Linked DNA regions of Homo sapiens. The protein of the gene in region 1 purifies or fractionates together with the protein of each later gene. This does not show direct contact. Each region holds a gene or a part of one and is shown in the gene's direction. Other genes may lie near its edges.

Region 1 (3,500 bases):
GAGAGAGAAAAAAAAACTGCATTAGATTAACCCAGGTGGATTTGTTGTCCACGTGCCCACATAGATAAGGCTGCAACAATTTATAGAGGAACACTGTTCTAAGTCTGAACTGACAACTATACAGGCTAGTATTCTTTTCATACTTTTTGCTTTATTTCCCTCTATAAATACCTCCTTTTTAAAAGTTTAATTTAAAATAGTTCTTGAAAGACCTTCTGCAGATAAATGAAAAGAGTAACATAATGTCATTGTTATGAGCTCAGGCCCTGGAGTCAGGCCTCCTGGATTTATATTCACTCCTCCCACTTCCTCACCAAGTTACCTAGCTGTTCTGTGCCTCAGTTTCCTCATGTGCAAAATGGGTATAATTACAGAATCTCCCTCAAAGTGTTGTTGGGAAAATTTAATGAGATGATACTACAAAAGCACTCTGCTTCCCACCAAGTGAGGGTTCTTCCAGGCAGACAAGCAGTGAGGGTAACTGTTTATATTATGTTGTATAAAGCATCTAAAACAATCCTTTGAATTTGCATTTCCTGTACTTTATAATTCAAGGGAAATTTTCACATTATTAGGTATAAATCACTTTGCTTCAAATAATATGCAAGGCAACCTATCTTTCTCTACAATTAGGTTATATTATTTATAAATAGAAGGGAATTTAAAACGACGTTGCTTGCTTTTAGCTGAGGAATAGATCTCTTTCTGGGAGGTTCTGGCGGGTTTCAACACTTGCTTTGTGTTTGAGGCAAGGGTGATGATGTGGAACCCTGTCCTTGTGCAGAATAGAACTGCTTGCTTCTTCAGTGCCTCCATCCATTCAGTCGGCTGAGACATGTTGGTCACATCATTGCATTTGCTTGGGGTTCACAAGCAGGTGGGATCAGCTGCATTAACCCCAGGCAGTCAACAATGTTGTATTTCCACTAGCTTGGAGGAGTAATTAACCTGATTGGTTGCATTAATTTCAAGAGGTAAGTCTATTGTTGATTTTAAAGAAACTAAGTTAAAAATGCAGCAGCTGATGACATAACAACTATACCATGGTTTTGTTTAATTTCTGACACTAAACATGTATACAAACAAACATGAGTGTGGTATCCACTTAAACACAGAGCCCATCTTTGGAACAGCAGTCTGTCCACAATGAACTGGGTGCCGGCATGAGGGGAACCTTCCTTGTTTTCCATTAGCATCTCCAAGGACCCAGAGGATTTGAGTAACATAGCAGAATTTGCTCAACAAATAATGTTCTATATTTAACATTTAAAAGGACCCTTTGTTCCTGAATATATCTCTCCTTCTGTTTGCCAGTGAGCTCTAGGAATTAAATCACAAAATTAAACCCACCTTTCTTCCTAATTAATTTATTTTTATTTTTGATCAGTTCCGTAGAACTAGAGTGAGAAGAAATAACCATCCTTTCCATGTGTGGATATTCTAGGAAATATTCAGCATTTGAGATCCTACAACCATTTGACCACCATTTTTCAGTCTCTCTCCTTTTTGACCCAAGGGATAATGGAACACTTGCTATTTGCATCAGCAGAGGACAGAAGAAGGAAAAGGCCTGACCTTTGCCCTCTGGCCCTTAAAGGCTTTTGCAAGAAAACCAGCATGGTGTGAGGCAGGAGGAACCATCTGAAAAAAGGGCCATCCTTTGTCCCGGGCCCTTCTCACTCTGCAAAGATCAAGAGCACTGGCCTCTGATTATGTGACCCAAGCAGCTGGTGCTGCAGGCCTGCCTTCTGCATGGCTGCTCTACATGCCTGAGGACACCACTTCAGAACATCGTTCAGTTCATTATAAGTCCGAACTGAGAACAGTATAAGCTATGTCTGTTGTAGGTTTTCTTTTAATAATCTGAGGCATGCATCCTGTGGATATAATGTTTATTTCTAAACTTTCTCCATGTTTGTCTTTCTTCCTCCTTCTTTCCCATTTCTGTGTTTTGAGCTTTCCTGTCGCCGTCTTTCTGCTTTTTATCTACTTCCTTTGTCTCTTGTCCTTTCCTCTTTCCGGAGCACCCTGGCTTGTCTGATTTCTCCTCAAAATAATCTGGACAGTCCTGAGATCCCTCAGCCCCTTGGCTCCCCTCCCCAACCCCCCAACCTCCAGCTTTCCTACTACAGGAATTTACTTTCTTGGCTCGCCAGCTCCTTGACCTGTCTTGGTACCATCTAAGAGTTCATTCCCCTCAAAAATCTGAAAAACAGCCTTTCGGCAGCCCTGTGATGAAACCTATCCAAGTGAGGAGGTGTCATTTTGCATAAGCCCAAGGAACTTTTGTGGAACCTTATAAAACGCTGCATTTCCCTCAAACAGGCCTATTTCCTCCACTGGGCTAAAATCAGGCTCTGCTAATTTTCTCTTGTGTTCCTTTCTGGTGCCACTTTCTGATTCAGGAAATTCGGGTCATTACAGAATCAGACTCAAATCCTACATATTGGACTGTGTGGCGCAGATCATTAGTTATGAAGTGTTTTGATTTTCTTCTTTTTTAAAAAAATATTTCCCCCCTCACGAATGACTGTGAATGTAGCAAACTGACACACACACACAAATGGATTTCCCACTCTTTGGGGTTGTTTCTTGTAGTGCTTAGTTTTACAGTCATGCTTTTTTGATGATGTTGCCACGGCAGTGAATGAATCTGAATGTATTGACTATCTTGTCCGTAGGTGAATGTCCTATACTCCATAATTCCCAGCCAGTAAGCCAGCTTCCTTCCCTGAGGCCTGAACATCATCACTACCCAACAATCGATGAGCCTCTTCCACCAAGTAAGCTTTAGTTTTTAAAATCTGTGTCTTAACTCTTCCTATCAAGTCTAAGCAGGTCAGTATGAATTTGTGTGTAAACATCTAAAGTCTTTCCCGACTCCGTGCCTTACAGTGTTAACAAAGACCAATATGACACCTGCTCTAAAAACTGGTGGTTTTTTGGGGGTTTTTAGTTTGTTTTTTTGACTAATAGTTTCACCATGTGATCTTGAAGAGATAACACAGTGTTTTCAGTGCCTCTCAACTTCTGAAATGGAGAGCATTTCTCTGTTAGACTTGACTAGTCTTTGCAAACTGTTCATGACCTTTAAGTCCCAAATTTTACATTTTATATTTAAAATTTGCAGTTCAAGATAGAATAATCCTATTGTTCTCCATTGGATCTGTTACGTCACAAGCATCTCCATATGTTAAAACAACTTCAACCCATCTGGGCACATGAACTTGTACTTTCCTTACTATAACTTCCATCCATAGGGAATAGCTTCAAATTTCTTCTGCAGTTCTTAGGGGTTGCCAGGCAAAATATCATCTTTAAGATAGAATTCAATGTCAGTTTCTCCTGGTAACTGTAGTGGGTAATTAATAATTATCTAACTAGTCATCTGAACTTGGGAAATTCATTTAATCTCTCAGGGACTTAGTTTTCTCATTTGTAAAATTTAAAAAATAAAGTTTAAATGTCTCCATCTGCTCAATGAAAGATTTGACCTAGAT
Region 2 (3,500 bases), on another chromosome or scaffold:
GGCCATGAGGATCAATATTTCCTTACAGAGGGCTGAAAGAATTCCAGGGATTGACATCCAGGTGCTGGGGAAGACCCCCCTAGAATCTCCCTACCCCATCCCCCCTGTGAGGGCAGCTTGGCCAATTTACCCACTGCTCCTGGCTCTTTACCAGCCTCCTGGGGCAATGATAACTCAAATGCAGCATAGCCACGTTCTAGGCAGTGTGCTGAGGATTATCTTATTTCATTCCCATTGAAACCCCCTAAGGGATACATCCAGATGAGGGCTTAGGGCCACGGAGAGGATGGGAGACTTGTCTGAGGTCCCACAGCTGGGGAGTGCGGAGGCCTTGTCTGAACTGGTGCGTGTTCCCTATAAGTGGCAAGAGTGCAAGGCTTCTGGAGCTTCTCAACACTCAGAGAGGCCCAGAACCCGAGGGAGCTGTCCAGAGGGCTGCTAATGGGGAAAATGTCGGTCTTGCCATCTTCTTTCTTCCTCCCCTGGGGGTGGCCCAGGTCATCTTTCTCCGAGGGATTGCCTTTGGCAGAGTGAGACCTGGGTCCCTCCATCTCTGTTAGTAAATTACTGGAGGGGCAGAGAGATGATGGCTTTACTCCAGAAGGCCTTAACACAAGTCACTGACCCCTGTGTGTGATGACACTAGGACAGCAGACAGTAGCCCAAGGCATCAGCTTCTGGGGCCTCCTGGCCCTGAGGTCTGTGTTAGAGGCTTGAGGGCAGGTCCCCAGAGCCCAGGACAAAGGCAGCTGTCAGGGTGGAGCCCAGGCGAAGCTGCATACTCTTCTGATGTGTGTGGGTTCGTGGAGATGTGGGTGTAGGGGTGTTGGGGTGTCTAAAGCCGGCTATGGGAAGCCATGTCATACTTGGCTACCTTCCTATGTTCCTTCTCACAGCAAAACTCTTGGACTGATCATTTGAAGTCACCCCTCTGTGTCTTCTTGTGAAATGGCTTGGGCGTCTCTGGGCTCTGACTTGCTCATCTGGGAAGAGATGGGGTAGAGGGAGTTGGATTATAAATCATGCTTCACTCAGTCAACAGAATGCTACTCAGGCACTAAAAATGATGGCGTAGCCCTACGTATTCTGACATGGGAAGATGGCCACAATATCTTATTATGTGGAAAAAACTAGTTGCATAGGATTTATGGTTTGATTACATTTTAGTAAAATAAATTCATTTATGGTGGTATATGCAAAGAAAAAATAATGCCGGGCGCAGTGGCTCACGCCTGTAATCCCAGCACTTTGGGAGGCTGAGGCAGGTGGATCACTTGAGGCCAGGAGGTTGAGACCAGCCTGGCCAACATGGTAAAACCCCATTTCCATTAAAAATACAAAAATTAGCACCAAGCGTGGTGGCACGTGCCTGTAGTCCCAGCTACTCAGGAGGCTGAGATGGGAGACTTGCTTGAACCTGGAAGGTGGAGGTTGCGGTGAGCCAAGATCACGCCACTGCACTCCGGCCTGGGCTACAGCCAGACTCTGTCTCAAAAAAAAAAAAAAAAAAAAAAGAGAAAAAGAAAAAGAAAAGAAAAAATCGAGATGTAGACACACTAAAGTGTGAACAGATTTTCTCAGGGGTTGATGTACTCACAAAAACATCTTGGCCAAGCATTGAAGCTCATGCCTGTAATCCCAGCACTTTGGGAGACCAAGGTGGGCAGATCACCTGACGTCAGGAGTTTGAGAACAGCCTGACCAACATGGCAAAACCCCATCTGTATTAAAAATACAAAAAAAAAAAAAAAAAAAAAGCCAGGCGTGGTGGCGTGTACCTGTAGTCCCAGCTACTCGAGAGGCTGAGGCAGGAGAACTGCTTGAACCTGGGAGGCAGAGGTTGCAGTGAACCAAGATCACAGCACTGTACTCCAGCCTGGGCGACAAAGTGAGACCGAAAAAAAAAAAAAAATTTCTGTATCAGCTGTTAAGATTGTGACTCCAAGTCCTAGAAAAGTGAAAACAAGTTTGCACCTGTTTCATCAAACTCAAGGATATTATTTGATGGAATTGTCCCTTAAAATAAAGCTGCCACTGTCAGAAGTTGGTGTTTAGGCGCATTCCATTCCCAGTGGTCTGTGCTAACAGAAATGCAACCTTGGCAGTGATTTACATGCCTGGGTTTGAGTGGGCCGGGTGGTTTTCTGTGGCAGATTAAGGTCCCTCATTGTGCTTGATTTTCAGTTCCACCTATACATGTTGTCAGGACACTGTGCTGACCCTGGGGGCTGAGGGACACACATTGGCTGGGGCAGGAGAACTGGGCTTGGTGGGGATAAGAACAGAATTTATGGCCGGGCACGGTGGCTCACGCCTGTAATCCCAGCACTTTGGGAGGCCGAGGCGGGCAGATCACGAGGTCAGGAGATCGAGACCATCCTGGCTAACATGGTGAAACCCTGTCTCTACTAAAAATACAAAAAAAAATTAGCCGGGTGTGGTGGCGGGCGCCTGTAGTCCCAGCTACTCGGGAGGCTGAGGCAGGAGAATGGTGTGAACCCGGGAAGCGGAGTTTGCAGTGAACCGAGATCGTGCCGCTGCACTCCAGCCTGGGTGACAGAGCGAGACTCCGTCTCAAAAAAAAAAAAAAAAAAACAACCAGAATTTATGATGTATATGGTTTCTCAAGACAACTTTGAGAAAAAACTTCTAGAATTTTTAAAAATATGTAAGGACACTGAGTGTTCCATAAGAACAAACGTGTCTGTGATATAAATAAAACATGTCGGCCTGACATTGGGGTAAGGAAAATGAACTCCAGGGGTTGACAATGGCCTTGCATCTCTCTTTTGGGCTGGTGCTTCTCAGGGGAATGGACTGAGTTTTAGGGCCTGACATGAGTTTTCCAAGAGTGGGAACTGGGCCTCCCCTATTAGCCCGAGGCTCTGCAAGGATGAAACCCTGTTTCCTCTCTCAGGCTGGAAGCTCCCGGTGACACTGGAGGGTCCCGCTTCTCATCACTGCTGTCCCCGGGGTTCGATGGAGCTCTGCACAAGATTCCTGCCCTGGTGGTGGGACCACGATGTTGGGGCAGTGATGTGGGAAGATGAGAACAGGGACTAGAGATCAGAGAGGCAGGACATCTTTAAAGAGCCCCTCCTGCCTCACTCAGGTCTTCAGGGGTCTTTGGCAGTATGTGTAATGGTAGAGACCAGTGACTTGAGGGCCATATGTCCCAGATTCAAATCCTGGCTCCTCCACTAACTCAGCGTCTATACCTCACTTTTCCCATCTGCAACATGGGCATACTAGCACATACCTTACAGTATTGTCATGAGTTGGCCCACATAGAGCACTTAGGATGGCACCTGGGTCGGAGGAATCCCTTGCTAACTGGTGGCTGTCCTGTGCTAGTAAAGAACTGTGGGGATTTCATTACTGAAGCCGGGGAGAAAGCATGAGGAAGAAGCAAGCCTCCCTTGCCCGTGGTAGGGGTCGCGGTTCCCTGCCCTCATTTCTTAGTAGCCCTTGGCCGCCACCCTGAGCTCATGTTTTGTTAG

The links.
Region 2: the proteins of HECW1 (region 1) and CUEDC1 purify together in Homo sapiens (co-immunoprecipitation; one large-scale study listed by IntAct). This does not show direct contact.

Annotation. Positions count from the first base shown.
Region 1 is NC_000007.14:43,448,147-43,451,646, forward strand, and holds part of HECW1 (E3 ubiquitin-protein ligase HECW1), read left to right. Parts: intron 1-2,681; coding exon 2,682-2,783; intron 2,784-3,500. UniProt on the Homo sapiens protein: E3 ubiquitin-protein ligase that mediates ubiquitination and subsequent degradation of DVL1. Also targets the mutant SOD1 protein involved in familial amyotrophic lateral sclerosis (FALS).
Region 2 is NC_000017.11:57,885,913-57,889,412, reverse strand, and holds part of CUEDC1 (CUE domain-containing protein 1), read left to right. Parts: intron 1-3,500.